Regions from separate parts of the Homo sapiens genome. Here all the other regions are linked to region 3. Evidence: fine-mapped expression QTL. A gene starts in region 3. Each other region holds a variant in brackets. All regions are shown on one strand. Distances are from middle to middle. Region 1 has its middle 6.8 kb from the start of MIR130AHG. Region 2 overlaps UBE2L6 (ubiquitin conjugating enzyme E2 L6). Region 3 holds the start of TIMM10 (translocase of inner mitochondrial membrane 10).

What was found. PIP is the estimated chance that this variant, and not a neighbour inherited with it, causes the effect. A credible set is the group of variants that fine-mapping cannot tell apart.
Region 1: its variant is the best candidate, but not a certain one, in a credible set for the expression of TIMM10 in whole blood (TOPMed, PIP 0.61).
Region 2: its variant is the best candidate, but not a certain one, in a credible set for the expression of TIMM10 in whole blood (TOPMed, PIP 0.60).

What each region holds. Positions count from the first base shown.
Region 1 is chr11:57,627,171-57,635,978 of GRCh38, reverse strand. No RefSeq gene overlaps it. Among named protein-coding and RNA genes, the nearest start is that of MIR130AHG, 6.8 kb to the left of the region's middle. The variant G/C (reference allele first, on the strand shown) is at 4,804.
Region 2 is chr11:57,555,002-57,563,080 of GRCh38, reverse strand. It overlaps UBE2L6 (ubiquitin conjugating enzyme E2 L6), which reads left to right. Exons shown (of 4, transcript NM_004223.5): 2 at 2,649-2,744. Among named protein-coding and RNA genes, the nearest start is that of UBE2L6, 8.6 kb to the left of the region's middle. The variant G/A (reference allele first, on the strand shown) is at 5,160.
Region 3 is chr11:57,528,533-57,535,288 of GRCh38, reverse strand. TIMM10 (translocase of inner mitochondrial membrane 10) reads left to right here and starts at 4,535. Exons shown (of 3, transcript NM_012456.3): 1 at 4,535-4,631; 2 at 5,055-5,170; 3 at 6,371-6,756. The coding sequence starts at 5,100. The coding sequence ends at 6,572. RefSeq lists an enhancer at 4,356-4,535.

The sequences.
Region 1 (8,808 bases), 100 kb before region 3:
TGCTATGTTGCCCAGGCTGGTGTTGAACTCCTGGGCTCAAGCAATCCTCCCACCTTGGCCTCCCAAAGTGCTGGGATTACAGGCATGAGCCACCCCACCTACTGGCCCATTTTATGATCCTTTTCTTTTTTTGAGACAGAGTCTGGTTTTGTTGCCCAGGCTGGAGTGCAGTGGCGCGATCTGCAACCTCTGCCTCCTGGGTTCAAGTGATTCTCCTGCCTCAGCCTCCTAAGTAGCTGGGATTACAGGTGTGCACCACCAGGCCTGGCTAATTTTGTATTTTTAGTAGAGATGGGGTTTCACCATGTTGGTCAGGCTGGTCTCAAACTACTGACCTCGTGATCTGACCACCTTGGCCTCCCAAAATGCTGGGATTACAGGTGTGAGCCACCACGCCCGGCCATGAGACACCGCGCCCAGTTCATTCTATGATTCTTGCTGGGGGAAAAAAAAAACCCTTTCTTTTCATCCTCAGGCATGAATTCCTACAGGTTCAAATCACAAATCATAAAGGGCATCAATTCCCCGGAAATGAGGTTCAAATTCCTGTCACCTTTGTCAGGAATCCTTTCCTTATGAATGTCAACCACTTCTCTGAGAAGGGAGCTGAGATACACCCACCCCACTACACAATGAAAGATTGTGGCTAAAAGGGAATTTGCAGGTTTGTCCAACCTTGTTTTTTCAAAAATAGAAACCAAGACGTTGACGGGGTGGGGATAGGGGCTGTCACTTGCCCAAGGACAGTCAGAACAGCAGGTTGATGTGTTCGCTCATGAGTTAACGTGCACCTGTAAACTTAGTCCATCTCTTTGGGGCTCCTGCGGGAGCACACACATACATGTACATCATTAACTTCATTCAAGAGATGTGCTTCTCTGACCTTGGCCAAATGAGAGCCGAGATTTAAGGGCCAGATGGGTCCTCCAATTGACATGTGGAAATCCAGAGCTCCTGGGTATGCCAGGATTACAAGAAGATGGACAGCCCAGAGCCCACTCCCTGAATATGGTTGAAGGACCCCCTTGTGGCATTGCCACCATGAGAAGAGGAAGCTGAGGGGCGGGAGAAGAAGGACTCTGAGTTTATCCTTGGACTGACCAAGAGACAGAATTAGCTGGGGGTTTTGGAGGATAAGGAGGGCAGGGTGCCCAGGATTTTGGTAGCTACAGGCTATGACTTGTGCATATAGGGCCCTAACCTAACAGAGAGACAACTGCTGCAGGGAGTTGATAAAGGAGATGGCTGCACTGGCCTGAGCTTATACAGTGTTTGTCCAGTCTTGCTTCTGGAGAGCCTTTGCCTGGGTAATGTGCATGAGGGGAAACACAGAGCTTCCTGGGAAATGGCTGCTATCTTGAATATTTCCTTACTACTAGGAGACATTGCTAAATGACTGCTCTGGTGAGAGATATAAGGAGTTCAGAGAAAAGAAGGATTGCTCCCAATGGGGAATGGAATCCAAGAAGGCTTCCTGGAGGAAGCAGCATCTGAGACTTGAAGAATAGAAAGTATTTAGACACAAGAAGATGGGAGAAAGGAAGACAAGGAAATGCCAAGGAGAGAGAACAACACAAAGGCTGAGAGGTGGGGAAATGGTGGGATTGGCTGGAGATTCAGTGGGAACCTGGGGTGTCTGAAGGGGAATAGAAAGGAAGAAAAGGCAGCTGGGACAGATCATGGAGGGCTTGGACACATCTCTCCAGCCTCTACTCTGCTCCAAAGACATCATTTTCCTTGAACATACTTTTATCTTTTCCTCACCAAGACAAACCCCGCAACTATTCATTCAGCTGCCCCAGGGCCTCCATGCTCAGCTCTCTGCCTCTTCTGCCTTAGTCTACGGGCCCGTCTGTTGTCCACAAACATCCTTCCCTGGGCAAAATGGGCTCCAATTGCTCAGTAGAGAATGGACTCTCATTGGTGTCTCTCAGTTCAGTCTCCTATCTCTGGATTCCCAGTGTGTAGGTATGAGCTGCATGAAGGACCCTCCTTTTTCACTCACCACCTTCCAAACCCCCACGTGGCCCCACCCCTTCTCAGGAGAGTCAGAAATGGAGGCCAGGAACAGCTAGACGTGGTCCAACCTGTTACAGGAGTGTAAAAAATGCACCCAGGAGCTACTTGGCTCCTAGCCACCCTACCCCACCTCCACATTCTTCACTCCTCTTATGGGAGTTTCAGAATGCACCTGGGCTTTGCAGGAACCTCCCTTTCCCACCACCCCCACAGCAATCCAAGACTATTCTGGAGGTGCTTCCTTTGCCTCCCTCCCTAACCTCCATTGTCATATACAGATATGGGTCCCTCCATGCCTATTTGGGTAAATCGTGTAGAAAAAAAGGATTGCTCCCAATGGAGAATGGAATCCACGAAGGCTTCCTGGAGGAAGCAGCATCTGAGTCTTGAAGAATAGAAAGTATCACGTAGAATACTATAAATGTGAGACAGGGAGACCATCTGCCCTAAACCTTTGCCTCTTGGAAGGACTGAATCTGAAACGCTGGAGAGAGTTGCCTCCTTGCTTAAACATCAGTGGAGGTAGGTAACTCAACTGCTAATAACACATGGCTTTTTTTTTTTTTTTTTTTTTTTTTTTTTTGAGACAGAGTCCTGCTCTGTCACCCAGGCTGAAGTGCAGTGGTGCCATCATGGCTCACTGCAGCCTTGACCTCCAGAGATCAAGCAACACTCCTGCTGCAGCCAACTAGATGGGACTACAGGCACATGCTACCACACCTAGCTAATTTTTGTATTTTTTGTAGAGACAGGGTCTCCTTATGTTGCCCAGGCTGGTCTCAAACCCCTTGAGATAGGGGATAGGTGATGGCTATCCCTATAGGGGATAGGGGATGGCTCAAGCCATCCCCTTGCCTCAGGCTCCCAAAGTGCTGGGATTATAGGTGTGAGCCACCATGTCTGGCTAACACAGCTCCTAGTTCACTTGAGATGATGATAGAGGCTTTTCCATATGAGCCTCTTTCATTTCCCCTCCTTCCACAGTAAGGTGCCTCTTCACCTTTACCATCCTGCTTCTCTCAAATGCTGCTGTGTCTGAGCACTGCCTGTATGCAAGGCTCTGGAACCATCGCTGGGAAACACTGCCAGCCCGGAAAGTGCTCACAGTTGAGGAGAATGCAAGGCAGACACATAAAGAGGAAGTCACGGCCGACTGCAGTGGCTCACGCCTGTAATCCCAGCACTTTGGGAAGCCGAGGATCACCTGAGGTTAGGAGTTCAAGACCAGTCTGACCAACATGGTGAAACCCCATCTCTACTAAAAATACAAAAATTAGCTGTGCCTGGTGGCACGTGCCTATAATCCCAGCTACTCTGGAGAATCGCTTGAACCCAGGAGGTGGAGGTTGCGGTGAGTTAAGATCGCACCATTGCTCTCCAACCTGGGCAACAAGAACGAAACTCCCTCTCAAAAAAAAAAAAAAAAAAAAAAAGAGAAAGTCACACAGGTGCCCAGGTAGACGTAAGTGCCTTCTTTCTGAGGTAAACCTCTTTCCTTGAGGTCTAGCTCTCATCCTTTACTCCATCAATTGCCCCATTTATTGCATCTCTAATCCCTTTCCATAAACCTAGGGCAAGGGTCAGCCAACTACAGCCCACAGGGCTAAATTCTGCCTCTGCCTGTTTTTTGGTAAATGAAGTTTATTGGAACACAGCCATGCTCACTTGTTTACACATCGTCTATGGCTGCTTTCTACAACCACGACAATGGCAGAGTTGAGTGGTTGCGACAGAGACCATACGACCAACAAAAGCCTGGCATATTTACTGCCCAGCTCTTCACAATAGAAGTTTGCCAACTCCTAAATTTATGGGCAGTTTTAGACCTTGCCATCTCAGAAAGATGTAATAGAACTCAAGAAACGCAACTGAAATTACTCCGAGATGGGAGTGGAAGGGCGAAGCCCAGACTTTTCATCTCAGTCTATACATATGCTCAAGTCTTCCCTCAACCTGTCGTGAAGCTTCTCGAAATGCTAGTCAGCTTTCTATATTATCTCTCCTTCATGGCTCACTCGTTCGTTTTTTTTTGTTTGTTTGTTTGTTTGTTTGTTTGTTTTGAGATAGAGTCTTACTCCAGGCTGGAGTGCAGTGGTGTGATCTCAGCTCACTGCAACCTCTGCCTCCTGGATCCAAGTGATTCTCCTGCCTCAGCCTCCTGAGTAGCTGGGATTATAGGTGCCCACCATCATACCCAGCTAATTTTTGTATTTTTAGTAGAGTTGGGGTTTCACCATGTTGGCCAGGCTGCTCTAAACTCCTGACCTAAAGTGATCCTCCCACCTCTGCCTCCCAAAGTGCTGGGATTACAGGTGTGAGCCACCACATCCAGCCCATGTCTCTCTCATTCTTAAATCTGCGCAATCTGACTTCTGCCCCCCAATTTCCACTGAAATGTTTCCTACTAGGATGCCAATGACTTCCTTATTACTGATCCACAATTCTCCTCTCAATTCTCATCACATGCATCTTCTCTTTAGCACTTGCCAGTACTGACTATATCAGTCTTGAAATGCCCATGACTTCTGGCAGACTGGCCTCTCCTGGATTCCCTCCTACCTCTCCAACTGTTCCTTCTCAGCTCCCTTCCTGTGAGTCCTCTTTACTCCCCTGTTGCCTAAATATACAGATTCTGTGTGGATTAGTCCTTGGTCTTCTTTTCCATCTATACTCTCTCGGTGAACAAAATCATCCACATGCCTGATTTCAACAGTCACTCATATAGACCCAGATTTCTAACAGAAGGTTGCAATTCCTCAGATGTATGTCTTACCAGCCAACTAA[G/C]CTGAATTTGGGCAACATCAAACATATGTCTTCCTACACCTCTGCCTTCACCTAATCACCTTTGTCTCTTTTTCCATCTGCCCCTTAATTGTTGCCATTCCTGAGAGATCTGTCCTTGACTCTCCTCTCTTTGGGGGAAATTTCATCCATTCTTACAGTTTTAACAATCACCCATACATGAATCACTGCCAAATCTATATCTCTAGTTGTATTGCCAGCTCCTTACATTCCCAAATAGATGTGTGAGGTGAGCAGCTGGTGCTTTTGCCTGCCCAGATATTCCATCCCCCTTCTGGTAACTACATCTTAGTTTTCCTTTGGGAAGACACCTATTCTCTGACCTCAGACCACATGGTTCACATGAGACTGGCCTCATCTGCCCCTTCAGGGACAGTCACACAATCCAGATATATTAGTTGTCTATTGCTGCATAACAAATTAGTCCAAAACGTAGTAGCTTAAAACAACACACATTTATTTTCTCTGTTTCTGTGGTTCAGGAATCTGGGCAGAGGTTAGCTGGGTCCCCTGATCATGGTCTCTCATGAGGCTGCAATCAAAGTATCATCCAGGGGTTGGGGTCTAATCTGAAGATTCAATGGGGATCAGATCTGCTTCCAAGCTCAGTTTCATAGTTTTTTGGGAAGATCCAGTTCCTCAAGGGCTGTTGGAATGTGGACCTCCGTTCTTTGCTGTTGGCTGGAGGCCATGCTAGGTTCCTTGCAATGTGGGCCTCTCCAACATGAAAGCTTGCATTGTCAAAGCCGGCAAGAGAGAGAGAGTCCACTAGCAGGATGAAGTCACAATATTTTGTAACCTAATCACAGAAGTGACAACCTCTCCACATTGCCATATTCTACTGGTTAGAAGTAAGTTACTCAAGAGGAGAGGATTACACAAAGGCATGATTACTAGGAGGTAGGATCACTGGGGGCTGTCTTAGAGGCTATCACCCACACCAGACTTAGCCAATTAAGTCATAATAATTGGATCAAGGATATCCAATCAGAGTCAATCACAATTAGGCCTAAGATGTTTGCTGTAATCTTTGGGAAAGTGGTATTGCCATCCCTGTTACGCTGGTAGACAAAGCTTGAAACTGCTGATGGCCATAACTGCTGCCGAATGGGGGAAGATCTGCCTAAAATGCCAACATAACAGAGCAAAGCAGAGGCAAGAGATGGAGAGAGACAGGTGCCTGGGAACCTGCTAGAGGCATGTCTACAGGTGAACCTCTTGAGTTTTTATTTATTTTATTTTATTTTTTATTTTTGAGACAGAGTTTTGCTCTTGTTGCCCAGGCTGGAGTACAGTGGCGCGATCTCGGCTCACTGCAAGCGCCGCCTCCCAGGTTCATGCCGTTCTCCTGCCTCAGCCTCCCGAGTAGCTGGGACTACAGGCGCCTGCCACCACCCCCAGCTAATTTTTTTGTATTTTTAGTAGAGACAGGGTTTCACTGTGTTAGCCAGATGGTCTCAATCTCCTGACCTCATGGTCCGCCTCCCTCGGCCTCCCAAAGTGCTGGGATTACAGGCATGAGCCACTGTGCCTGGCCCTCTTGAGTTTTTAATTATGTAAACCACAACATTTCCTCTTCTCCTTATGTTAGTCTCAGTTGGCTTCTGTCACTCATAACCAAAAAAATTCCTGACTGATAAAATGTCACAGAGATGTCTTGGATGCAGTTTGCCCAAACCCAGTTTCATTGTCTTACCTTCACCTTCCCCATCCCCACAAACCTGCTTTTCTTCTTAGATTCTATTTCACAGTTAAAAGCCTACCACAGTTGTTTAGGCTGAAAACCATCACAGGATCATCTTTACCCTTCCTCATTGGCTGCGCCAGTAAGGAGGAGTAGCCCATGCAACATGGGTTGCAGATTGGAGTGTCCCATGAAACATGATCTTAAATACTGATAAACAAGTTACTCTAGGCTATTAGAATCTTACAGAATTTCTGGCTGTGGAGTCACATGATTTAGAGGATAGTAGTGTATCTGACTCTCCTATCTGAATACACCACGTACTAAAATGAAATTCTGAGAAACTGCCTGATGACCTTGTGGATCAGAAGACACCTGGGGTTTGATTTGTGAAACTTTCTATCTCCAGGCAGATTAAAAGAATTTGTGTTTCAAAGTCAATCAAAATTTCTTTTACATCTTTTATCTTAGGGTTGCAATCATAATTCTAATCCTTACTTCTCTTACTCTCTGCCACCTTCACCCAAATTGCCCTAAATCCTGTGCATTCTACCTCTTAGATGACTCCTTTTCTCTCCATTCCCCTGCCCCTTGAGGGTTTGTGTCATCCTCTGAATAACTTTCCTTTCAAGTCCCATTCCATCAGCGTGTAAGTCTAAAACACAAACCTCAGATCATTCGTGTGTCCCGAATTATGATGGCTCTCTAGTATTTATTTATTTTAATTTATTTTATTTTTTGAGACAGGGTCTCACTCTGTTGCCCAGGCTGGAGTGCAGTGATGCAATCTCAGCTCACCGCAACTTCTGCCTCCCGGGTTCAAGCGATTCTCCTGCCTCAGCCTCTGGAGTAGCTGGGACTATAGGCGCTTGCCACCACACCCAGCTAATTTTTGTATTTTTAGTGGAGATGGGATTTCGCCATGTTGGCCAGGCTGGTCTCCAACTCCTGACCTCAAGTGATCCGCCCTCTTCGGCCTCCCGAAGTGCTGGGATTACAGGTGTGAGTGACCACACCTGGCCTAATTTTTGTATTTTTTTAGTAGAGACAGGGTTTTGCCATGTTGGCCAGGCTGGTCTCGAACTCCTGGCCTCAGGTGATTTGCCCTCCTCAGCCTCCCAAAGTGCTGGGATTACAGGTGTGAGCCACCATGCCTGGCCCCTAGTATTTAGATAATGCTTCCTAAACATTATTGGATCACGGACACTTAAAAAAAAAAAGCTGATGAAACCTATGGGTGACTCTTTCTAGAAAAATGTTTTTTGTTTTTTTTTTGTATTACGGTATTGATATGGTTTGGCTCCCTGTCCCCATTGAAATCTCATGTTGAATTATAATTCCCAGTGTTGGGGGAGGAACCTGGTGGGAGGAGATTGGATCATGGGGGTGGATTTCCCCCTTGCTGTTCTGGTGATAGTGATTGAGTTCTCACAAGATCTGATGGTTTAAACTTGTGTAGCCTTTCTCCCCTTGCTCTCTCTCTCTCCTGCCACCATGTGAAGAAGGAGCTTGTTTCCCCTTCGACTTCTGCCATCATTGTACATTAACTAAGGCCTCACAGTCATGCTTCCTGTTAAGCCTGTAAAACTGTGAGTCAATTAAACCTCTTTTCTTCATAAATTACCGAGTCTTATGTAGTTCTTTATGGCAATGTGAGAATGGACTAATACAGGTATACATCTCAAGGGGATCGTGAACCCTCTGGAGTTCATTCACATACCACTGCCCCCAACACACGCTCTAATCTCCTCCAGGTCAGAACTTCTTCAAGAGGATACATTCCAAACTTCTTAGCATGGAACTCAAGGCCTTCCAAACTTATTCCGAGTTGCCTGTCTAGCTGCACCTACCACCTGTGCTGTTATGATTATTTTGTGTCTAATTCCTCATCAGACCAAGATGCTCCCTGAGAGCAGAGATTGTGCCCTTTCATTTTTCCTTTTTACATTTCCCCAGATCAAATGAAAGTTTCTCAGGAGGAGTAATCTGAACCCTTGGCCTAGCTAGAAAAATCGTTGATTGACTGCTAGACATGACTAATTTCCAGCCAGCCAGAGGGTTTTAGGGTCATGAGCCTAGTGAATATAACTACAATGTTCTATTCTCCAAATATATTTGGGGAGAGCTTTGATTCAAAATTTTCAGTTTTAGCGGATCCCATAAATATGGAGACTTCTGAGACCTTGTGCCATGATTTTAGTTTAGAAAATGTAGGTCCTCAGTGGTGAACTTACCACATTTGCCAGTTAATTAGTGCCAGGGATCTCTTTTTGGTAGCTACAGCTCTTTGGACCCTGGAGAAA
Region 2 (8,079 bases), 27 kb before region 3:
TCCTCAAAACAGCTATTTTGATTTCTCTGTCTGAAAGGTCACATATCTCTGTTTCTCTGGAATTGGCCCTGTGTGCCTTATTTAGTTCGTTTGGTGAGGCTGTGTTTTCCTGGATCGTCTTGAAGCTTGTGGATGTTTGTTGGTGTCTGGGCACTAAGGAGTTAGGTATTTATTATAGTCTTTGTAGTCTGGGCTTGTTTGTACTCATCCTTCTTGGGAAGGCTTTCGAGGTATTGGAAGGGGCTTGGCTGTTGTGATCTAAGTTTTGGTCACTGCAGCCATGTCTACATAAGGGGGCACTCCAAGCCTAGTAACACTGTAGTTCTTGCAGACTTTTAGAGGTTACTACCTTTGTGGTTTTGGATAACATCAGGAAGAATTCTCTGGATTACCAGGTAGAGACTCTCATTTTCTTCCCTTACTTTCTCCCAAACAAATGGAGTCTTACTCTCCGTGCTGAGCTCCCTGGAGCTGGGTGAGGTGTGACACAAGCATCCCCATGGTCACCAGAATTGGGACTGCACTGGGTCAGGCCTGAAGCCAGCACAAGACTGGGTTTTGCTCAAGGCCCGCTGTAATCACTACCTGGCTATGCCCTACGTTCGCTCAAGGCCCTAGGGCTCTGCAATCAGCAGGTGGTGAAGCCAGCCAGGCTTGTGTTCTTCCCCTTAGGGTGGTTAGTTCACTGCTGGGCCCCAGAGAGGTCCACAGTTGCTGTCCATGGGCCAGGGCCTGGAGTCGGAAACCTTAGAAATCTCTCTAGTGCTCTGTGCTACTGCAGCTAAGCTGGCACTGAAACCACAGGACACAGTCCTTCCCACTCTTCCCTCCCTTTTCCCCAGATATAGGAGTCTCTCCCCTTGTCCACCACCACCACGGGTCTATGAGGAGTACTGCCAGGGTACTACTGCTGATGTTCGCCTAAGGCCCAAAGGCCCTTCAGTCAGCTTGTGGTGAATGTGACCAGGCCTGAGACTCACCCTGCAGGGCAGCGGTCTCCCCTCTTGTTCGGCCAGATAATTCTTTGTTAGGATGTTTATCAGCATCTCTGGCCTCTATCCACTCTCCCGATTTATGACAACGGAACAATGTTCCCAGATATTACCGAATGTCCCTGGCTGGGTAAAATCGCCCCTGGTTGAGAACCACTGGTTTGTACCAATTCATTGTTCCAGAGAAATGTGACCTGCCCTTGAGTGTCTTTATCTTCCCCAACAAGAAAAGGCCTGTAGTCCCACAAGATGGACTCTAAAAGAGGGGCAGCATTCCTTTGTCAAATACATTTGAGAAGTACTGCATGCTGTGGGCCCACAGCTTGGTCAATCACCATACACAATAGCATATTAAAGGCTGTGGGAAGTTCTCCAGTGAAGAAACCTCTTTAGCCGAGATTTACCAAATGTACTTGACCTTGGAACCCTTTTCCTGTACTACCTATTAACCTTCTGCAGGACATACTGTACTTATGTTTCCCATCTGGGCCCTCTGCCCTGGTGCTTCTCCCCTTCTCTGCTTTATGGATTCCTGTTCATTCTGCATGGCCCAGCTCACAGAGTGCACCCTCTGTGAAACCTTCCTTCTCCCCTCTCATCTCCTTCCTTACCGTATATCCATACACATTCACATAATCACATCCATGTTTCGTCCATTACTCTATTGAAATTCTTGAGGACTGGGTCCTGTCTCAGTTAAATGTCAGTAGAAGATGCTCAGTAATGGCTGTTGGGAGAATTCAGAAGGGATATTCAGGTGTTTGGGCCACAGTTTTGGGAAGATGAGTCACTCCTTGCCCCCTTGTTTCCCCACTTGGTGTGTAGAGTTCTTCTCTGCTATGGTCTTCCGGAGTCATTTCCCTTCTCCAGCCCTGATCTGGCAGAGTTTGAAGCGGTGGGGTCATGTCTTTGCTGCAGATGCTCAGTCGATGCTTACGGAAGGAAGAAAGGAAGAGAGGAAGGGAATTAGAACCTAGTGACTTTCTAGGAAGAAGGCTAGAGAGCAGAGGTTAAGTACCCTGCTTTCAGGAGAAAAGCCTCCTAAGAGCACTTACTCCCAAGTTTTAATATCTGGGAGAAGTGATCTATTTTTCCCTGCACCTAGTACCTAGGTGTACCAGAGTTGTGGTGAGGCCACAGTCAGAAAATTCACTTAAAGCACCAGCACCGGCTGGGCGCGGTAGCTCACGTCTGTAATCCCAGCACTTTGGGAGGCTGAGGCGGGCGGATCACGAGGTCAGGAGATCAAGACCATCCTGGATAACACGGTGAAACCCCGTCTCTACTAAAAATACAAAAAATTAGCGGGGCGTGGTGGCGGGCGTCTGTAGTCCCAGCTACTCGGGAGGCTGAGGCAGGAGAATGGCGTGAACCCAGGAGGCGGAGCTTGCAGGGAGCCGAGATTGCGCCACTGCATTCCAGCCTGGGCAACAGAGCGAGACTCTGTCTCAAAAAAAAAAAAAAAGAAAAAAGAAAAAGCACCAGCACCATGCCTGATACATACTAAGTGCTCAGTAAATGTAGGCTCTGACTTTACCGGCTTCTGCCCCTAAGATGGCCAGTTTTGAACTTGGGGCAGCTTGCTGCTGGGGCAGGGGGAGGGGGCTGAAATAAGGAGGACTAGGCCAACTGCCCACTCACTTGTGTCCCCTGCAGGAGCTGGAGGATCTTCAGAAGAAGCCTCCCCCATACCTGCGGAACCTGTCCAGCGATGATGCCAATGTCCTGGTGTGGCACGCTCTCCTCCTACCCGTGAGTATCCATGGGGACCATGGCTTTGGATTGGGGCCAAATTAGGCCAGGGACATGGGCAGGGAGGGTTAGGACTAGGCAAGAATTTTCCCTGCTTGAGATCCTTTTACTGGAGGTTATCATTGCTGGAGGGGGCTTCTCTCTGAATTGATTGCTTCTGAGATCCAGATACTTCTGAGGTTCACCTTCTGATAAAGATGCCAAAGGACTTTTGACTTAGTAGGAGACCCCTTCCTTAAACCGGTAGCCACCAAGCCCACCACAGAACTTCAGGAGACAAACAGCATCAAAAAGAAGAAGAAATAAAGATTTCTTGGACCTTTGTCAAGGGGTAGGGATAAACTTCCAGGCTCTCACAGTTGGGAGAATTTGCTCCCGCAAACCTAAATTGTATTTTGTTTTTCTGTAGTCTTATTTCAGAAAATTGTTACATATGAAAACACAAATAGCTCATTTCTACTGTTCTTATTTTTCTCTGTTTATTATTTGGTATTTTCTTGATAAAGTCTCTCTGAAAGCAGTATTCCAAAATAGTTTTCAGAGTGCAAGATCTCTCTTTTTTTCATCCGATTATTAGTGACTAAAGATACTTTGAGAAATTAATCTACACTTTTCATTACTTGGAAATAAAATTTAAGACATTGAACTTTTTGTTAGTCAAAGCTCTTTGGAATATCAAAGGAACAATTCATCTTATCATTTAGGATTTGGACTTGTTTTTTTTTTTGAGACAGAGTCTTACTGTGTCACCCAGGCTGGAGTGCAGTGATGCGATGTTCGTTTCCTGCAACCTCCACTCTGGGGTTCAAGCGATTCTCCTGCCTCAGCCTCCTGAGTAGCTGTGACTACAGGCACGTGCCACTATGCCTGGCTAATTTTTGTGTTTTTAGTGGAGACAGGATTTTGCTATGTTGGCCAGGCTGGTCTCAAACTCCTGGCCTCAAGTGATCTGCCCACCTCGGCCTCCTAAAGTGCTGGGATTACAGGTGGAGCCACCACACCCGGCAGGATTTACTTTTTATTGACAATGCAGTGGCCTAGGTTGTGTCGTCTTCTCTTTAAACTGACCTATAGTCCAGAAAAGTAGAGAAAGGCCTGAGTCAGGTCAACATGGGAACCTCTGTCAAGTCCCTTGGGTTACTGTGTTGAAACGATCCACTTACCTGGCTTAGAGTGAGGACACCTGTTCTAGGCCTCAGGTGCCGGGAGAAGATGCTCAAAGGAGCTCCAGGGACTGATTATATCTCCAAGGAGACCAACTTTGAGATGATGAAAGCAGGGGTGATAGGAAAACCTAGGAAAGGTCTCGTTTGGCAGAGTACTATGAAATCAGAGGACCTCAATAGTTGGCAAGACCAAGGTGGTTAAGTGCGCCCCAGGAACTGGCCACAGACCTTCCAGCCATATAGGAGTCCTGAAGAAACATGATACTTGGGAGGAATCCCAGAGCTGGAGGACCAAAGCTTGATGTAAGTCATCAGCTAAGGGGGCCTGAAGGTGCCTGGTGAGGCCATAAAGGAGGGGATGGTTGACTGGCAGAGGAAGGAGAACCAGGAAAGGTCTTTTGGAATAGCACACAAATTCCTCCTCAAAGGCTCAGTCTCAGTTTATGTGTTCACCAAAGTGGCCCCACTTGTCACATCTTGGTCATGGAAGGATTCAGCTCGATGAGTCTTTCGAAGCTAATAGTAAAATTCTCATTCCTTGAGAGTTTCCTGTGGACCAAGTGCTGTTTTAAGCACACGACATATGAGGTCATATTGAATCCTCTCAACCATCCAGTGAGGAAGGTTGTCTTCCTCTTAAAATTGCAGAGATGGAAACCAAGGAGGTTAAGTAACTGGTCTGGGGTCACTCAGAATAAGGTGGCAGGAGTGGAATTCAGCGGACTCCAGGGTCTTCTCTTTTAACCACTCCATGAAAAATGAATAGTTTTCAAAATTTTTTAAAAAGTAGCAGGCCGGGCACGGTGGCTTACACCTGTAATCCCAGCACTTTGAGAGGCTGAGGTGGGTGGATCACTGGAGGTCAGAAGTTTGAGACCAGCCTGGCCAACATGGTGAAACCCTGTCTCTAGTAAAAATACAAAAATTAGCTGGGCATGGTTGTGGGCACCTATAATCCCAGCTACTCAGGAGGCTGAGGCACGAGAATCACTTGAACCCGGGAGTTGGAGGTTGTAGTGAGCTGAGATTGGGCCATCGCACTCCAGCCTGGATGACAAGAGCAAAACTCTGTCTCAAAAAAACAAAACAAAATAAAGTAGCAAAATCCTTTATTTAACCTAGAACTTAGAAGGTAGTGGGACTTTCTCAACTGACTGTAAGATACAGCATGGAATCCTCTGGTCCAGCTTCTCCATTTTACAGACGAGGAAACTGATCCTCAGAGAAAGCTCAGTCATACAGCAAGCCC[G/A]AGGCAGAGCTGGGACAGGTCCCCGGAGCTCTCAGCTCCATGACTCTGCTACCTCCTTCCTCTGTTAAGTCCTACGAAGCCCAGAAAGAAGCCCCTTCAGGCAGGACACACTGATACCCCTGTCTTAGTCCATTAGTGTTGCTGTAAAGGAATACCCGAGGCTGAGTAATATATAAAGAAAAGAGGTTAATTTGGCTCAAGCTTCTGCAGGCTGTACAAGAAGCATGGCGCTGGGCATGGTGGCTCACGTCTATAATCCCATGTCTTTGGGAGGCCGAGGAGGGCGGATCACCTGAGGTCAGAAGTTCAAGACCAGCCTGACCAACATGGAGAAACCCTGTCTCTACCAAAAATACAAAATTAGCTGGGTGTGGTGGTGCATGCCTATAATCCCAACTAGTTGGGAGGCTGAGGCAGGAGAATCGCTTGAACCTAGGAGGCAGAGGTTGCGGTGAGCCGAGATCACGCCATTGCACTCCAGCCTGGGCAGCAAAGTGAAACTCCATCTCAAAAAAAAAAAAAAAAAGAAGCATGGCACCAGCATCTCCTTCTGATGAGGCCTCAGGAAGCTTCCACTCATGGTGGAAGGCAAAGGGGAGCCACGTGTACAGATCACATGCAAGAGAAGAAGTGAAAGAGAGAGAGAGCGAGCAGGTGCCAGGATCTTCTAAACAACCAGCTTTTTCAGTAAGTAATAGAGTAAGAACTCTCTTATGACTGTGAGGTTGGCACGGAGCCATTCCACGGAGCCATTCGTGGGAGGTCTGCCCCCAGGACCCATACGCCTCCTGGTAGGCCCCACCTCCAACATTGGGGATCAAATTCTTTTCTTTTCTTTCCTTTTTTTTTTTTTTGGTGACAGAGTCTCACTCTGGAGTGCAGAGCAAGACTCACTGCAACCTCTGCCTCCTGGATTCAAGCAATTCTCATGCCTCAGCCTCCTGAGTAGCTGGGACTACAGGCACATGCTACCACGCCCAGCTACCTTTTTGTATTTTAGTGGAGGCGGGGTTTTATCATGTTGCCCAGGCTGATCTCAAACTCCTGAGCCCAGGCAATCCATCTGCCTCAGCCTCCCAAAGTGCTAGGATTACAGGCGCGAGCCACCGCCACGTAGGTCTTGGGGATCAAATTTCAACCTGAGATTTGAGGAGACAAAACATCCAACCACAGCACCCTCCCATCCTGCTCTGAGGCCTCAGCTGTTGGCCTTCTCTGACTGATAGGCACAGCCTTTTCTCCTTACTGAGACCATAAAAAATGAGATATTTTCTTTATCTTCCTACTTTTTTTTACTCCATCTCTCTTTTTTTTTTTTTTTTTTTTTTTGAGACGGAGTTTTGCTCTTGTTGCCCAGGCTGGAGTGCAAGGGTGTGATCTCTGCTCACCACAACGTCAGCCTCCCAGGTTCAACTTCTGCCTCTCGGTTCTTGCCTCAGCCTCCCGTGTAGCGGATATTACAGGCATGCACCACCACACCCGGCTAATTTTGCATTTTTAACAGAGACAGGGTTTCTCCATGTTGGTCAGGTTTGTCTTGAACTCCCGACCTCAGGGGATCTGCCCACTTTGGACTCCCAAAGTGCTGGGATTACAAACGTGAGCCATCGTGCCCGGCCTAGTTAGATCACATGGCTAGTGAGTGTCAGAGCCGAATCACACCCAGGCAGGGTGGCTCCAAGTGCTGGGATTACAAACGTGAGGCACCGCACCTGACCTAGTTAGATCACATGGCTAGTGAGTGTCAGAGTTGAATCACACCCAGGCAGGGTGGCTCCGGAGTCTGTGTGACCCCCATACTCTGTTGCACAGGCTAATGCATGTCAAACCCTTAGCACAGGACAGCACAGACAGGTGCTCAGAAAAGTGTTCAGGTGGCTCAAAGTCTAGAGGGTCTTCTGCTGGCTCCTTGCAGCTCCCAACCCCTAGGTCACTCCAGCCCCTGAGTTTGTTTGTTTTTAATCATAGTAAAATACACATAACAAAATTTACTATCTTAACCATTTTTAAGTATATAGTTCAGTGTCATTAAATAGGATTAAATAGGATTACAGCTGGGCATGGTGGCTCACGCTCGTAATCCCAGTAATCTGGAGGCCAGAGCAAAAGGATTGCTCAAGTCCAGGAGTTCAAGACCAGCCCTGGCACAGTGAGACCCTATCAAAAAAATTTTTTTAATTAGCCAGATATGGTGGTGGGCCCCTGTAGTACCAGCTACTCAGGAGGCTGAGGTGGGAGGATCACTTGAGCCCAGAAGTTTGAGATTACAGTGAGCAATGATAATGCCAGTGCACTCCAGCCTGGGTGACAGAGCGAGACCCTGCTTCAGTAAACAAACAAACACACATTGTTGCACAACCATCACCACCGTTCATCTCTAGAACTTTTTGTCTACCTGTACTGAAACTCTGTACCCCTTCAGTAACTCCCCATTCCTTTCTTTCCCCAGCACCTGGTGACCACTTTTGTATTTTGTTTCTATGAATTTGACTATTCTGGGTACTGCACATAAGTGGTATCTTGCAAATCTGTCCTTTTTTTGTCTAGCTTATTTCCTGTAGCATAGTGTCTTCAAGGTTCATCCGTGTTGTAGCATATATCAGAATTTCATTCCTTTTAAGGCTAAATAATACTCCATTGTGTGTATATGCCACGTTTTGTTGATTGATCCATTGATAGACACTTGGTTTGCTTTCACCTTTTGGCTGCTAGAAACATTGGTATACAAATACCTGTTTGCTTTCAGTTCTTTGGGTGTCTACCCAGAAGTAGAACTGCTGGATCATATGGTAATTCTGTGTCTAATCTTTTGAGAAATGGCCATACTGTTTTCCATCACAGCTGCACCATTTTATTTTCCTAAGCTCCTGAGTTCTTAGGATTTCCTCATTTTCTCCATTTCCTCACCCCCATTCTAATG
Region 3 (6,756 bases):
TTCAAAGTCTGAGGCTATCTAAACTGTCTTCTACAAGAAGCAATTCAACTGGGACCATTGGAGATTCCTACCTGTAGGTCTCCACATAGAGGAAAGACACAGTCTCATAGTAAATAATCATAATAACAATAGCATCATCATCAATAAGAGCAATGGTTTTCCAGAGGCTGAGCAGCTGGGGAGATGGAGAGTTGCTGTTCAATGGGTATACAATTTCAGTTATGCAAGATGAATAAGTTCTAGAAATCTGTGTACAATATGGTACATATAGTTAACAATACTATTTTGTGCACTTAAAAATTTGTTGGCCGGGCGCGGTGTATAAAGCACTTTGGGAGGCCAAGGCAGGTGGATCATGAGGTCAGGAGACTGAGACCATCCTGGCCAACATGGTGAAACCCCATCTCTACTAAAAACACAAAAATTAGCTGGGTGTGGTGGCATGCGCCTGTAGTCCCAGCTACTTGGGAGGCTGAGTCAGGAGAATCCCTTGAACCTGGGAGGCAGAGGCTGTAGTGAGCGGAGATCGTGCCACTATCCTCCAGTCTGGTGACAGAGCGAGACTCCGTTTAAAAAAATTTTTTTTGTTAAGCAGGGCCCAGTGCAGTGACTCATGCCTGTAATGCCAGTGCTTTGGGAGGCTGAGGCAGGAGGATCGCTTGAGGCCAGGAGTTTGAAACCAGCCTGGACAACATAGCAAGACCCTATCTCTACAAAAAATTTTAAAAACCACTCAGGCATGGTGGCTTGCGCCTGTAGTCCTAGCTATTCAGGAGGCTGAGATGGGAGGATTGCTTGAGCCCAGGAGTTTAAGCTAACAGTGAGCTATGATTGGGTCTCTGCACTCCAGGCTGAGCGACAGAGACCCTGTCTCAAGGAAAAAATAAATAAATAAAAGGGCTTTATCTGTTAGAGATAAAAATAGATGAAGAAAATATGGACAAATGTTAACAATTCCTAAGTCCTGGTGATGAATATATGGAAGCTCAATGTCCTGTTCTCTCTGCTTTTCTGTATGTTTTAAATATTCCATCTGGGCATGGGGTGGCTCATGCCTGTAATCCCAGCACTTTGAGAGGCCAAGACAGGAGGATTGTTTGAGCCCAGGAGTTTGAAACCAGCCTGGGAAACATGATGAGACCCTATCTCTTAAAAAAAAAAATTAGCCAGGCATGGTGGCTCATGCCTCTAGTTCCAGCTACTTAGGAGGCTGAGGTAAGAGGATTGCTTAAGCCAAGGAGTTCACGATTGCAGTGAGCACTGATCATACCATTGCACTCAAGCCTGGGTGACAAGGCAAGATCCTGCCTCAAAAATCCTAAGTAAAAATAAAAATAAATTTGCCCCAGTGAAAGTTTAAAAATGAAAAAGAATGAAAACAATGATTTATTTTTATTGAGCATCTACCATGGACTAGGTACTTTACTTACACAATCTTTTATATAAATATTTTTCTTTCTTTCTTTATGGCCAGCTCTTACTCATACTTGTATAATCTTATTTGTTTTCTTTTTTGTAGAGATTTTTAAAACTTTTTATTTAGAAATAATTATAGTTTCACAGGAAGTTGCATTAATAGTACAGAGAGGTCCTGTACGCCCTTTACCAACTTCCACTAAAGGTTAAATCTAACATAACTATATTCAATATCAAAGCCAGATAATTTATATTGGTACAATGTGTGTGTGTAGTAGTTCTATGACTTTTTTTTTCTTTCTTTTTTTTTTTTAGACCGAGTCTTGCTCTGTCGCCCAAGCTGGAGTGCAGTGGCACAATCTCGGCTCACTGCAACTTCTGCCTCCCGCCTCCCGGGTTCAAGCGATTCTCCTGTCTCGCCCTCCTGAGTAGCTGGGACTATAGGCGCATGCCACCACACCCGGCTGATTTTTTTTATTTTAGTAGAGACGGGGTTTCACCATGTTAACCAGGATGGTCTCGATCTCCTGACCTCGTGATCCACCCGCCTCGGCCTCCCAAAGTGTTGGGATTACAGGTGTGAGCCACCGCGCCTGGCTTTTTTTTTTTTTTTGAGACGGAGTCTCACTCTGTCGCCTGGGCTGGAGTGCAGTGGCACGATCTCGGCTCACTGCAACCTCCACCTCCCGGGTTCAAACGATTCTCCTGCCTCAGGCTCCTGAGTAGCTGGGGTTACAGGTGCCCGCCACTACCCCCAGCTAATTTTTTGTATTTTTAGTAGAGACGGAGTTTCACCAACAAGGCTGGTCTCGAACTCCTACCTTGTGATTCGCTCGCCTGGGCCTCCCACAGTGCTGGGATTACAGGCGTGAGCCACCGCACCCTGCCAGTTCTATGACATCTTATCACCTGTGTAGATTCTTGTAACCACCACCACAATCAGGATACAGAATTATCCATCAACACAAAGATCTCTCTTGTGCTACCCTTTACAGGTACACTTCTATCTCCCCATCAACCCTAACACTAGACAATCAGAAATCTCTTCTCCATCTCTATAATTTTGTGATTTTGAGAATGTTACTTAAATGAAATCATACAGTATGCAACCTTTCATAAGGCCCAGTAGATATTGCAAGATTCCTCTTGTAAGAAACCATCTCCTTTTCCCACGCAGTTTCTTAACTTTCCATAATGTTTCTTTTTTGCGGGGAGTGGGGGGTCGGAGTTTCACTCTTGTTGCCCAGGCTGGAGTGCAATGGTGCGATCTTGGCTCACTGCAACCTCTGCCTCCCGGGTTCAAGTGTTTCTCCTGCCTTAGCCTCCTGCTTAGCCTCTTGAGTAGCTGGGATTACAAGCACCCGTCACCACACCGGGCTACTTTTTTGTATTTTTAGTAGAGATGGGGTTTCACCAAGTTGGCCAGGCTGGTCTCGAACTCCTGACCTCAGGTGATCCACCCACCTCAGCCTCCCAAAGTGCTGGGATTACAGGCGTGAGCCACTGCACCCGGCCAATGTTGACTATATTTTCAAAGGCAAAAACCAAGGCAAGATATGTCCATCTGTACAAGAGTATCATAGCAGCATTATTGCATAATAGGCAAAAACTGGAAACAATCCAAACATCCACCAACGGGAGAATGGATAGATGAATTGTGGCATACTCATACAATCAAACACTAGACAGCAATAAAACAGAAGGAATAACAGATGCACACAACAATATGGAGGAAATCTTACAGGTACATTGAGCTAAAGAAGTCAGGCACAAAATAGAAAATAATGTATAATTCCATTTACACGAAGTTCAAGAACAAGGAAAACTAATTGATGGTGATAGAGGTCAGAATAGTGGTTAACTTCGAGAGGGGGTATTGATGGGGAAGGAACACAAGATAACTTTTTGGGGTGCAGGAAGTATTTTATATCTTGATCTGGATGGCGGTTATACAAATGTACATATATAGATACATATATATTTAATTAAGCTTAACATTCGTGTATTTTATGCACTTTATGAATGTTATACCCCAATCTTTAAAAATCAGGGCACAAGTTTGGCAAAGATGAGTCTTCAAAGCAGTAGAAAGGTCAATTGTTTAAAATTAGGATGGTCTTGGACAATTAGGGAAGCTTATGATGACCACACAGAAAATGTCTAGCCCACCTTTTCCAATGGGCAATGTGCCCTTGCGTCATTAATTTACATCTTGTAAATTTATTTTACCAGGAAATTGTGTGACAAATCAAGGGACTGAGTATTGTTTCCTTGTTTCCTTCTTTTTAGTGGGGAATGAGTGAATGGTGCAGTTTGAAGAACACATTAAGTCTTGAAAGTTGGAAAGTTCACCAGTACCCTTCTTTCCCTCACCCAAGATTAGCCCTGGTGGCAGCCGAAATTGCTTTTATTATCTCTTTGTGGCTGAGGACCTCTAACTGTTGAAGAAAACATATTTTACACGTCTTGTCTTTCTGCGAACAGGAAGCCTATCTCGCTTATCTTTGCAACCCCAGACGGGGCTTAGTGTGACCTACACACAGCAGTAATCGCACAACGTCCCGTGGAGCACTGCTTCTCAAATTTGGCTGTACATACGAATCACCTGGGGAATTTTAAATTGTATTGCTGCCTGAGGAATTTTAAACTGTACTCCCAGAGATTCTGATTTAATTGAAATGAGGTGAGTCCTGGGCACTGGGATGTTTAAAAACGTTCCAGGTGATTTTAACGCGAAACAAAAACAGAACCGCTGTTTGGGGGCGTTCTTCCTTCTCCACGCCTGATTTGCGCACAGGAGTCGGCTGTCTGGAACGGGGGTGAGGTTCACAGGTGTCTGTCGCCACGCCTCTTCCTACAGAACCAATAAACTGAAGCCGCTCGGTGACATCCCAAAGGACTTGAATTCTGATCGGGCTGCAGACGCTCTGCACCCCGCCCAAGCTTCTATGGTACTTTGGTGTCCTCTCTAGCACTGGCAAGTCGCCTTCCTCTTCGCCCGGCGCCAGCCGCTCCCTCTCTATGATCGCCGAGTTCCCGGCGCCGTCTCGTTGGTATTTAATTCCGGAAGCGAGTTTGAATCAAAGAAGAGGCGGGACTTTCCTCCCGGAAGTAACCCACGTGCTTCCGCTGGAGCCTCTCGGGAGGCGGGTAACGTTATAGTATTTGTCAGAAGTTGGGGTCTCCGTGGGCATTGTGATCCGTCCCAGGCAGTGGTAAGTGACACATGACCTCTGAATTCAATGTGGCCCTGATGATGGCGTCGCCATTTCAGAGGTGTAGCCTTTGGGCTGGGTCCCGGTCGCCTCTGTTCAGCGTATGATCCCATTCCCAGGGCCCTGGAGGTTCAGGTTCGTGGGTTAGAGAGTTCTCCTCCGGTCCTCGATCTCCTGAATAGAGGTGACCTCCAGGAACTGGGGCATCAGAGATCCGGGGCTCGATTTCCAGGCTCGCCATAGACGTCCTGTGCGACCTTGGGCTAGGCCTCAGTTTCCACATCCGTGAAATGGGGTGGTTAAGCTCACTGAGGTTAGTGGCCCGTGGTGGTCTGGCGCCCTGTGAGTCCTCTGTATCCTCTAGCCCCAGGGGTAGGAGAGTGAACGGCGGCGGTGGGTGCTGATGGTGATGTCTGCTCCCAGGATTAGGAGGCCAGAAGGAGATCCCTTCCACGGTGCTAGGCTGAGATGGATCCTCTCAGGGCCCAACAGCTGGCTGCGGAGCTGGAGGTGGAGATGATGGCCGATATGTACAACAGGTAAAGAGAACTATGTGCTACCCTGTCTTGGAAAATAAGTCTTGGTCACCCTTATCGAAGGTGAATGACTTATGACAAATTCCTTCCTGAATGTAGGGGAGCCTGAGGCCCATGCTTACCCTCCCCACACCCACCTTCAAGGTTGATCCTAATGTAGATGCAGTAAAGGGTCACTAGAATGAGTTGGGCATTTAGATGGGGATGGAACTGGCAATGCAGGAGCCAAGCAGGAAGAGAAACTCCAATCCAGGCTCTGGTTAGGTTCCAAGAAAAGCTGAGTATTTGCCTCTTGACAAATAGCACATAGCCAGCCCATTTAGTAGTTAACATTTTAAAACCCTTTATTCTGTGTCAGGCACTTGTTAATCTTCAAAATAATCCAGTGGGTTAATTTTATTAGTCCCGTCTTAAAATGAGGAAATTGATGATTCTAGAGGTTAAGTAACTTCCTTAGGGTCGGCAGCTGGTCAGTAACAATGCCAGAACTAGCACCTCAGTCTGATTCTGCAACTAGTGCTCATAACCATTTGGCAAATTTGGGAACAAATCCTGGCTCCACCAATCACCAGCAGTATAATTGGACATGTTACTTGCACTGTTTGACAATTGGTTTCCTCATTATGAAGAAGACATAATGATACCTACCTCATAGGACATCATAAATATTAAATCTAAAAATATATGAAAGCCCTTAGCCTCAAGCCCAACACTTAGTGAAATGTCTGCTATTTTTATTGGCTTAAGCTCTCTTGATTGGTTGGTTTATCCTGAAGGCTATAAATTAGAAGGATTTTTAAGTGTAGACTGTGAGGTCAGATGACCTGGCTTCATAACCCAGCTCTGTGTGATCCTTAGAAAATTACTGAGCCTCTGTTTGCCTTAATTTCCTCATCTGTAAAATGGGGATACATGTCTCTTAGGGTTATTGTAAGCATTGCATAACAGAATGCAGGTAAAGCACTTAGCAGGATGCCTGGCATGTAGCCAGTCCTCAACAAATGGTTTCTACTTAGTTAGTCATATACATGGACTTAGACAAGTTTCCTACTTGCAAGGACCTTCCAGTGGTTGAGGTGTAAACTGAGGATTTACACTGCTTTCTTGGGGGAGGTGAAATCAATATAGCAGGGCTGGAATGGTCAAGGTTCCTGGGATGTCACAGGATGCTGCTGACATGACCTTGCCCCTCCCTCCCTCCAGAATGACCAGTGCCTGCCACCGGAAGTGTGTGCCTCCTCACTACAAGGAAGCAGAGCTCTCCAAGGGCGAGTCTGTGTGCCTGGACCGATGTGTCTCTAAGTACCTGGACATCCATGAGCGGATGGGCAAAAAGTTGACAGAGTTGTCTATGCAGGATGAAGAGCTGATGAAGAGGGTGCAGCAGAGCTCTGGGCCTGCATGAGGTCCCTGTCAGTATACACCCTGGGGTGTACCCCACCCCTTCCCACTTTAATAAACGTGCTCCCTGTTGGGTGTCATCTGTGAAGACTGCCAGGCCTAGGCTCTCTGTAGAGAGTCTTCAAGATCCCGGAGTGGTAGCGCTGTCTCCTGGTGAAGGAGTATTTGTCACACTGGAATGTGACTGT